3 linked regions of the Homo sapiens genome follow. The protein of the gene in region 1 purifies or fractionates together with the protein of each later gene. This does not show direct contact. Each region holds a gene or a part of one and is shown on either strand. Other genes may lie near its edges. The genes, in order: PIN4, RACGAP1 and SYNRG.

What was found.
Region 2: the proteins of PIN4 (region 1) and RACGAP1 purify together in Homo sapiens (affinity purification with mass spectrometry; one large-scale study listed by BioGRID and IntAct). This does not show direct contact.
Region 3: the proteins of PIN4 (region 1) and SYNRG purify together in Homo sapiens (affinity purification with mass spectrometry; one large-scale study listed by BioGRID and IntAct). This does not show direct contact.

The regions. Positions count from the first base shown.
Region 1 is NC_000023.11:72,195,130-72,198,783, reverse strand, and holds the end of PIN4 (peptidyl-prolyl cis-trans isomerase NIMA-interacting 4), read right to left. Parts: intron 2,000-3,654; coding exon 1,880-1,999; intron 1,417-1,879; coding exon 1,258-1,416; 3' UTR 444-1,257; downstream 1-443.
Region 2 is NC_000012.12:49,994,484-49,998,137, forward strand, and holds part of RACGAP1 (rac GTPase-activating protein 1), read right to left. Parts: intron 2,722-3,654; coding exon 2,557-2,721; intron 27-2,556; coding exon 1-26.
Region 3 is NC_000017.11:37,599,293-37,602,946, forward strand, and holds part of SYNRG (synergin gamma), read right to left. Parts: intron 1,112-3,654; coding exon 1,071-1,111; intron 1-1,070. UniProt on the Homo sapiens protein: Plays a role in endocytosis and/or membrane trafficking at the trans-Golgi network (TGN). May act by linking the adapter protein complex AP-1 to other proteins. Component of clathrin-coated vesicles.

The sequences.
Region 1 (3,654 bases):
AAGGCTCAAGTGATCCTCCCACCTTGGCCTCCTAAAATGCTGGGATGATAGGCCTGAGCCACTGTGCCCAGATGAGGTCACTGTATTGATGCTGAACTTAGTGCTGACACCCGATTGGCATAGGACACTACAGCCCAGAACTCCTGGGCTCAAGTGATCCTCCTGCCTCAGCCTCCCAAGTAGCTAAGACTACAGGCGCACACCACTGGGCCCAGCCATAGTTTCATCTTATATCTATTTGAACTTCTCTGTATACACTGGCATATCTGCTCCGTGGGGAAAATCTCATGGAGGCATAACCTACTGAGGTGCTCAGAAACTCTTCTCAAGTGGGAAAGTCAGGTATCTAGGTAAAGTTCCCATTATATAAGTGGGTATAATATCAAATGCAGCTGAGGGAGAGAAGGCAGTGTGTTAAAATAATCTGTTAAGAATCACATAGCTGTGTTGGCAAAGTTTTATTTTTGAAGCAGTATAGTATTTATATTAGTAATCTTTATACTTTTTTATATGTCATAAATATGGCATTTTAAATTTTAAAAATTTAGATGCACAGAACATTGGCCCTGGAAAGGACAGTCTTAATGTAACCCATACACTGAAGATGAGGGAATGACATTTTTATGCTGACATCCCTCCCTTTAACCAGCACTCGGTTAGTCTAGTACAAAACAACTCATGGAACAACTGAGTGCTTTTTTCCTCCAATAAACATTTATTTAAAAAGAAAGGAGTTAACACTGAAAGGCATAACGTGCCACGTACTATGTTAAGACAGTGGAGCTAATACCACCTGTCCTGGAAGATCAGAGTTGACTAACATGTAAAACAAATGTTGTCTAGGAACTTATTTTATGATTCTCACACACTAATCTATTTGATGCCCAATATTTTCAGTTGTGTGAATAGTGTGAGTTGATATCTGCTTCCCCTGAAGATGGTTTCTGAATTAATTTATGGGACAGACTGAGAGTCAGATATAGTTCTGGGAGGAAAGAGAATACAGGTTAAAGGGAGTCTGCTTGACTTCTCTTTGAGAAAGACTGACTGAATACCTACTACAGTTGACATTCACTTAGCCCCACCCTCTCTTACACCTACAAACCCATACTTAGAGCTTTCACAGAATACAAGGAGCATCCAATATCTTTTCTTTTTAAAAATTTTTGTATTTCCTTGCAGCTCCAGCTCAAAAGAATATGTAATACCTTTTAAAGAAACAAAATGTATAAAACTTATTCAGTCTTTCATATGATTTTATTTTCTTCCTTCGACCATAATAATATGATATCCAAATTTTGTCTTAACCGGTGGGTCTGTAAACACAGGCTTATCCATCCCACTTACAGGCAAGGCAAATGCTGCTTCTTGAAATGGTCCCACCATGGACCCTCTGGTCATCCAACCCAAGTCACCCTGAAAAACCCAAAAGATAAGTGATATCAAGTGGCCCAGAAGAGGGAACAGTTCTACTGTAGCTTGAGAGAATTTCCCAACATTTTGCTAAGGTTACGAGGTATATTCCTAAGAGCAATACAGGAATAGGCTCAATAAGGACAAATAGGTAGAAGAAGTCTAACTAGACTGAACACATAAGTACTCTCAACACTGCTGGACTTTGAAGTTAGCCGTGCAAGTTTGGTCATGCATAGGTTTTGACATAGATGACCCTTATTCTACTATTTACAAGTTGGACATTTCTGCTTTTGAGATCTTTAAACCAAAATATCGCTACAACCAATGGTTGAACAAAGGAATGATCCCTACTTCTGTGTTTCTTCTGTGGAGGATGGAGAATTTTTATCTTATTTTATTATTTGTCATTTTTACTTTGCTTTCTTACCTTGAGAGAAAATTATAAATAATAAGAGCAACATACCCCTTGCCTGGCTTTATCTTCACTATACTGTGCGGCCACTTCATTGAATCTCATCCCAGACTTTAACTTTTCCATGGCTTCCATGATTTTGCCATGTTTTTCACATAGAATGTGTCTGACCTGCAAGGAAAAAGTACATTCATGTAATACTTGGAGACCCAAATGACTCCTTAAAGTACAGTGGTTACATTTGGATTACCCCCACCAGTTAAAAAAAAAACACATTAGTTCATAGCAAGTAAAAATCCTGGAAGTTTGCCCAGGACAACAACCACAATCCCATTCCCCATATTAAGACAATGTCTCAGAGTCCTGATTTAGATGGAAAATAGGCACCTGGCTGTGGGAAGCTCCGCCTTTTTTTTTTTTTTGAGAAGGAGTCTTGCTCTGTCACCTAGGCTGAAGTGCAGTGGTGTGATCTCGGCTCACTGCAACCTCTGCCTCCCGGGTTCAAGCAATTCTCCTGTCTCAGCCTCCTGAATAGCTGGGTTTACAGCTATGTGCCATCACACCTGGCTAATTTTTGTATTTTTAGTAGAGATGGGGTTTCTCCATGTTGGCCAGGCTGGTCTTGAACTCCTGACCTCGTGATCCACCCGCCTTGGCCTCCCAAAGTGCTGGGATTACAGGCGTGAGCCGCCGCTCACGGCCGGGAAGCTCCCATCTTTTACCATATACCTTCATGCTAACAGGAGGAGGAAACACGATACGGGTTGAGAGCTGTGGTCCTAGAATCAAATCCCAACTCTGCTGTATGAACTTAGGCTTTATTTATTTATTTATTTAGAGACGGAGTCTCACTCTGTCTCCCAGGCTGGAGTGCAGTGGTGTGCTCTCAGCTCACTGCAACCTCTGCCTCCCGGGTTCAAGCAATTCTCTTGCCTTAGCCTCCCGAGTAGCTGGGATTACAGGCACCCATTACCACGCCCAGCTAATTTTTGTATTTTTAGTAGAGATGGTGTTTCACCACGTTGGCCAGGCCGGTCTTGAACCCCTGACCTCAAGTGATCTGCCCGCCTCGGCCTCCCAAAGTGCTAGGATTACAGGCGTCAGCCACCATGCCTGGCTGAACTTACGCATGTTTTTAAACCTCCAAGTGTTTCTCCATTTGTACATCAAGATGCAATGATAACGGGACCTATGTGTTCTCATAGGATTGTGAAGATTGAGATAATGCAGCTACCATTGACCAACGGCTAGCTATTATTTCATCAGAGTGAGGATAAGAAAAAACCTGCTAGAAAGTATTTCTATCTTTTTTTTTGAGACAGAGTCTCCGTCTGTTGCCCAGGCTGGAGTGCAGTGGCCCGATCTTGGCTCACTGCAACCTCCACCCACGGGTTCAAGCAATTCTCCTGCCTCAGCCTCCCAAGTAGCTGGGACTATAGGTGCGCACCACCACGCCCAGCTAACTTTTTGTATTTTTAGTAGAGATGGGTTTCACTGTGTTGGCCAGGCTGGTCTCAAATTCCTGGCCTAAAGTGATCTGCCCACCTCAGCTCCCAAAGTGCTGGGATTACAGGTGTCAGCACACCGTGCCTGGCCAGGAAGTATTTCTTACTAAAAGAGACCCAATGTATAAGCCTCCCCACAATTCCACACTTTGAAAAGGTATCATAGGTTGAATATTAAGAACGCCCAACCCTACTGAAGTATTCAAATTTGACCTATGTTTACATAAAGCCATGGATTTAAAAAAACACTATTATCCTTGAAAATGATTTTGTCAAGATAGCTGTTTCGCAGGATTTCTCATTTCACATTCAAATAGAATC
Region 2 (3,654 bases), on another chromosome or scaffold:
TGGGACACAAAGTCTGCCAGCATTCCCTGGAAAAAAAAAAGAGCTTTAAATTATTATTTACGCCATGTAGACCAACAGATGAAGACCACATGCGAAGAACCACCTCCAATCTTATTCTCAAACTGGGACATCATGTCTACTTTTACATTCCTATTCCCAAAGCATATATTAAAACAGAGACTCTCAATTATTTTTCCTACCTCCACACCAGGACTGATTTATTATCATATATACCACACTTTTTCTTTTTCATATATACACCACACTGTTATGTGAACAAGGAATAAGACCACCAGCTATAATTACCTCCTTCTCATCCACTCAAGGACAGCAGAAAACAAGCAATAATGAGGTTACAGGTATAGCCTTTAATATAAAATAATTTATTACTCTAAACAGATTTTTTTTTCTAACAGAAGAAAGCTGGAACAAGAGAAAAAAATTGTGTATACTTTCATTATTCTCAGTAAAAAAAATTATTTAACATATCTTATCAGTTGATTATGACACAAACCTACCTGTAGGGGAGAACTCCATGGTTCTATATTAGAGTACAGAACATGTGTAAAAAAAATGTACAGGCGGCCAGGTGCGGTAGCTCACGCCTGTAATCCCAGCACTGTAGGAGGCCGAGGTGGGCGGATCACCTGAGGTCAGGAGTTCGAGACCTGCCTGACTAACATGGAGAAACCCTGTCTCTACTAAAAATACAAAATTAGCCAGGCATGGTGGCGCATGCCTGTAATCCCAGCTATGAGGGAGGCTGAGGCAGGAGAATCGCTTGAACCCAGGAGGTGGAGGTTGTGGTGAGTCGAGATTGCGCCATTGCACTCCAGCCTGGGCAACAAGAACAAAACTCCCTCTCAAAAACAAAACAAAACAAAACAAAACAAAACAAAATGTACAGGCATGGATAAGAACTTGTAAGATCAGGGGAAAATAATATTTGATTTGCTGAAGAGTAGGTAGGAAGATAGTCATTTTGATTCTTGCTAATGTTACTTACATAATAATTTTTTTTTTTTTTGAGATAGGGTCTTGCTCTATTCCCCAGGCTGGAGTGCAGTGGTGTGATCACAGCTCACTGCAGTTTCAACCTCCCCACCTCAAGCAATAGTCCAACCTAGCCTCCTGAGGAGCTACAAACACAGGCGCACACCACTAACCTGGCTAACTTATTTATTTATTCTTTGTAGAGATGGAGTCTTGCTTTGTTGTCCAGGCTGGTCTCAAACTCTTGGGCTCAAGTGATTTTCCTGCCTCAGCCTCCCAAAGTGCTGGGATTACAGGCATGAGCTACCACACTCAGCAATAAATAATTTCTTAATGGATTTAATCAGTTTGGATTAAACTGGTTAAATATTTGGAAATAAGCAACTTCATTTTGATAACCTATTATGAAGTATGTCTAACATAAGAGCAAGAATAAAAGATAATTTTATCACAGATAAAATTATATGATAGCTGAGATTTGCTTCCAAGTAATTCATTGGACAGAGTCAGGAGGAGGCAACGACAGTATTGATAAATCAAGAACAGACATAAAGGCTGGGTGCCATGGCTCACACCTAGAATCCCAACACTTTAGGAGGCCGAGGCAGGCGGATCACTTGAGGTCAGGAGTTCAAGACCAGCCTGGCCAACATGGCAAAACCCCGTCTCTACTAAAAATACAAAAAAATTAGTTGAGCATGGTGGCACATGGCTGTAGTCCCAGCAACTTGGGAGGCTGAGGCATGAGAATCACTTGAGCCCAGGAGACAGAGGCTGCAGTGAGCCAAAGTTGCAACACTGCAATCCAGCCTGGACAACAGGGAAACTCTGTCTCAAAAAAAAGAGAGACATTAAAAAAAGAATGGACATGACCAGGCGCGGTGGCTCACGCCTGTAGTCTCAGCACTTTGAGAGGCTGAGGTGGGCGGATCACTTGAGGTCAGGAGCTTGAGACCACCCTGGCCAACATGATGAAACCCCATCTCTACTAAAAAATACAACCAAAAAAAATTAGCCGGGCATGGTGGTGGTACATGCCTGTAATTCCAGGTACTTGGGAGGCTGAGGCAAGAAAATCGCTTGAGCCCAGGGGGGCGGAGGTTGCAGTGAGCTGACATCCTGCCAGTGCACTCCAGCCTAGGCAATAGAGCTAAAAAAAAAAAAAAAAAAAAAAAAAAAAAAAAAAAAAAAATGGACACAAGTTAGTAATCATGGAAGTTAAGTGATAAGAACCAGGGGTTAGTTATACTAATTTCTCTAGTTTTATATATGTCTGAAATTTTCCAAAATGGGATGAAGGGGAGGAAGGAAGGAAGAAGAGGCAAGGAGAAGCAGGGAAGAGCAAGAAGGAAAAAGGGGCGGGGAAAGAAGTTTGGTTTAGAAAGGTATTAGACAGACAAACCCAAACAGGACTCTTCTACAAGTAAGTATCTTACAATTCTAGTCATTATTTGTGGAAAGAAATATATTTGAGATGATTAATTTTAGAACAAAAACTGACACTAAGCCTTTGAAAGGCGAATAAAGAGGCCATAAAACAATGACGGCTTGCATAAGTCATACCTCTCCAATCTTGACAGGTGTTCCTATCAGGGTAGGAATGCAGGGAAGGGGACAGCGGTCCCGACATTCTGGATGAGAGACCACACGACAGTCTCGACACTTCAGAGATAATTTGCCAAATTTTATCCGCTTTCCACATGGAACACAGGATTCAGGTTTAATAACCTGGGATAAAACAGGGCAGAAGGAACAGAGTGATATGAATTAGAAAATTATCATCATAATCAACTAACTTTTTTTTTTTTTTTTTTTTGAGACCGAATCTCACTCTCTCGCCTGGGCTGGAGTGCAGTGGTGTGATTTCAGCTCACTGCAACCTCTGCCTCCCAGGTTCAAGCGATTCTCCTGTCTCAGCCTCCCGAGTAACTGGGATTACAGGTGCCCACCACTACGCCCAGCTAATTTTTCGTATTTTTAGTAGAGACAGGGTTTCACCATGTTGGCCAGGCTGGTCTCGAACTCCTGACCTTGTGATTCACCCACCTCGACCTCCCAAAGTGCTGGGATTACAGGCGTGAGCCACTGGGCCTGGCCTTTTTTTGTCTTTTTTTGAGACAGAGTTTCGCTCTTGTTGCCCAGGCTGGAGTGCAATGGCGTGGTAGAGGTTGGCTCACTGCAACCTCCACCTCCCGGGTTCAAGCGATTCTCCTGCCTCAGCCTCCCAAGTAGCTGGGATTACAGGCATGCGCCACCACGCCCGGCTAATTTTTATATTGTTAGTAGAGACGGGGTTTCTCCATGTTGGTCAGGCTGGTCTCGAACTCCCGACCTCAGGTGATCTGCCTGCGTCAGTCTCCCTAAGTGCTGGGATTACAGGCGTGAGCCACTGTGCCCAGCCATAATCAACTAACATTTATTGAGCACTTAGTATGTGCCAAAAAATTTTCTAAGCCCTTTAGACATATTTACATATGTAATTCTCACAGTAATCCCATAAAATAGGTTTTGTTTTCTTCATTTTAAGATGAGGAAACAGAAGCAAAGAGAGTTTAAGTAACTTGTTTAAGGTCATCCCACTGGAAGGCAGCAGTGTGTGATAGTGGAAAGAACTTGTTTACAAAGAGCAGAAAACTTGGATGTTGGCAGGGCATGGTGGCT
Region 3 (3,654 bases), on another chromosome or scaffold:
GTTGCATGGCAGCATGGGTCAAAATTATATTCCTTCACTACTATTTCCTTGAAGATAAAGCTAGAATTGATATTGGTGGGTCCTAGTCTGAGACCAAGAGAGAAAAGGTATACTTAGAGAAATTTCTAGGAATAGAACTGAGACTTGGCCGGATGTGGTGGCTCATGCCTGTAATCCCAGTGCTTTGGGAGGCCAAGGCAGGAGAATCGCTTAAGCCGAGGAATTTGATACCAGCCTGGGCAACATAGGGAGACCCTGTCTCTACAGAATATTTAAAAATTAGCCAGGCGTGGTGGTATGCACCTGTGGTCCCAGCTACCTGGGAAGCTGAGGTGGGAGGAATGCTTGAGCCTAGGTGGCTGAGGCTACAGTAAGCTATGACTGTGCCACTTATACTCCAGCCTGGACGACAGAGCAAGAGACTCCATCTCAAAAATAAAAATAAAAAACCAAACAAAATCCTGAGACTTAAATACTTAAGCTGAATCAGACTATGTGATCTCTTTTAATTTCAAAATTATATATTTATAAAACATGATTATAATAAGATACTATCATATAGATAAAAAATAGCAGTGTAAAACAACTAAAGATGTTTGTTTATTCATTCAACAAACATCTACAGATAACCTATTGTGCTGAATCAACATGCTGGGTGCTACAAATAATGCTAGATGAGCATTAGACAGACATGGCACTAACAATCTAGCAGAAGACTAGATAGAAGGAGAAAGACATCATTAAGTGAATTACAGCTCGTTTCATTTTTATCACCTGTTCTTTAACATTCTTGTCCTAAAAGTCTTTCACCTCTGAGGTTAAACAATCTATGAACATAATGTCTATGTAAGTTTGGGAGAAACGAGGAGTGATCCTTATTACTCCCAAAATTATATAATTTTTGAGAAAATTTAAGAGTAGCTGTCATATAGGACATACAGGTTTAAGAGTGCAGAAAATTTTACTCTATTCAGCAGCAACAGAACTTATTTTCTATTTACTTATTTAATTCCCAGATTCAGAAACACAAGAGTGAAAAATAAAAGTTCAAAACTTAAGCTCTCACATACCTTGAGGGGGTCTTATCCCACCTGCAACAGGAAACATGAAGCTGAAAACAGAATAAAAATACATTATAATCTTCGTATGTACAAAGATTTCAAATAACACGTGTACTTTTTTATATGGATAAAAGACTTGTAGATGGGACCTGGTGTTTGTTCTGCACCACAATACTGAATTGCCCAACATCAGTACACTGAGCATCCATAGGATGCATGTCAGCATGCTACTGCAGACGGAAACTTGTTGAAACAAAAGACAGAAGACCCTGAAATTAGTCCTGGCTCTGTCACTTCGTGTCCTCTCTGGATTCCAGTTTCCCCATCTATAAAATGAGAGAGTTTAGATTCAATTCAGTCAACATCTATTGAGTGTCAACTACATGAAATGATGGAATCTTATAATCAAAAATACACATATGCAGGCAAATAACTATACCACAGGGTAAATGTGCTAACTGCTATAAGCGAGGTCCAAATTATTAATAGAGATGAGAAGAAAAAGATGAATTTTAATGGGCTATATCTTGAGAAGTTTTATGGAAGTAGCTCTGGAGCTGAATCTTGAAGGAAAATAGAAGCACACTATATATTTTGAGCAAAAGCTCTGAGGCAGAGATGCAGGGATGTTTGGAGAAATGAATGTAGGTTAAATGTTAACTATATGATTTAAAAGCAAGCAGATTGTACAGGGCCTTTATTTTTATTTTTATTTATTTATTTATTTTTGTGAGATGGAGTTTCGCTCTTGTTGCCCAGGCTTGAGTGCAATGGCGCGATCTTGGCTCACTGCAGCCTCCACCTCCTGTGTTCAAGCAATTCTCCTGCCTCAGCCTCCTGAGTAGCTGGGATTACAGGCACCCGCCACCACGACTGGCTAATTTTTTGTATTTTTAGTAGAGGCAGGGTTTCACCATGTTGGCCAGGCTGGTCTCAAACTCCTGACCTCAGGTGATCCACCCGCCTCGGCCTCCCAAAGTGCTGGGATTACAGGTGTGAGCCACCGCACCTGGTCAAGGGCCTTTAAAATGTTTCATTTTATTTTGAATATTATATGAAGTTGTCAGAGGTTTTATTGTTATTGTGGTAACATATACATAACATAAAATTCTATCATTTTTAACCATTTTTAAGTGTATAATTCCATGGCATAATTAAGGACATTCACAATATTGTCAACCATTACCACTATCCATTTCCAGAACCTTTCCATCATCCCAAACAGAAACTCTGTACCCATTAAACAATAAGTCCTCATTTTAGAGCGTAAGAAAGCTCTCTTCTAAGGTTTTTTTTAAGCTGACAACTTTATTTTTATTTTATTTTTTTGAGACGGAGTTTGCTCTTGTCGTCCAGGTTGGAGTGTGATGGCATGATCTCAGCTCACTGCAACCTCCGCCTGCCAGGCTCAAGTGATTCTACTGCCTCAGCCTCCTATGTAGCTGGGACTACAGGCGAGCACTACCAAACCTGGCTAATTATTGTATTTTCAGTAGAGACAGGGTTTCACCATGATGGCCAGGCTGGTCTTGAACTCCTGGCCTCATGATCTGCCTGCCTTGGCCTCCCAAAGTGCTGGGGTTACAGACATGAGCTACGGCACTTGGCCTAGGCTCTTTTGAATAAAGGTTAAGCCTGGGCGACAGAGTGAGATTCCGTCTCAAATAAATAAATAAATAAAGGTTAAAAAGTTAAGCTCTGGCCAGGCGCAGTGGCTCACGTCTGTAATCCCAGCACTTTGGGAGGCCAAGGTAGGTGGATCACCTGAGGTTGGGAGTTCCAGACCAGCCTGACCAACATGGAGAAACCCCATCTCTACTAAAAATACAAAATTAGCTGGGCATGGTGGTGCATGCCTGCAATTCCAGCTACTCAGGAGGCTGTGAGGCAGGAGAATCACTTGAACCCAGGAGGCGGAGGTTGCAGTGAGCCAAGATCGCGCCATTGCACTTCAGCCTGGGCAACAAGAGTGAAACTCCGTTTCAAAAAAAAAAAAAAATTAAGCTCTGGTTGTAGATGAAATAGCCAAGGGCATATATCCAGTAACAAAACAACTAAGGACAAACTTGGAGAATTCTTGCAGTGAAAACTGAGTAGGAAATGGTCATTGAAAACCAAGGGAGTGCTTATAACTGAGAGTTATAACTGAAGAAGGACCACATTTCAACAAGGAAGTAGTTACCAGTGTCTAATGCTGTAGAATAGCGGTGAGAATGAAGATTAAAAAATAAATCACTGCTTTCAAAAATGGTGATTGTTAAGTGAGTTAGTTTCAACAAAGAAAGGGGAAGAGACCCTAGGGAGAAAAAATTTAAGAGACAAAATACATACCTAGTGATTTATAAGGTTTTTAAGGAAATGGGATTAACACGCGAAGGAGCAAAAGGGGGCCAGATGAGGTGGTGCATGCCTGTAATCCCAGCACTTTGGGAGGCCAAGGCAGGCGGATCACTTGAGGCCAGGAGTTCAAGACCAGCCTGGTCAACATGACAAAACCCCATCTTTACTAAAAATACAAAAATTAGCCAGGCGTGGTGGCATGTGCCTGTAATCCCAGCTATCCAGTAGGCTGAGACATGAGCATTGCTTGAAC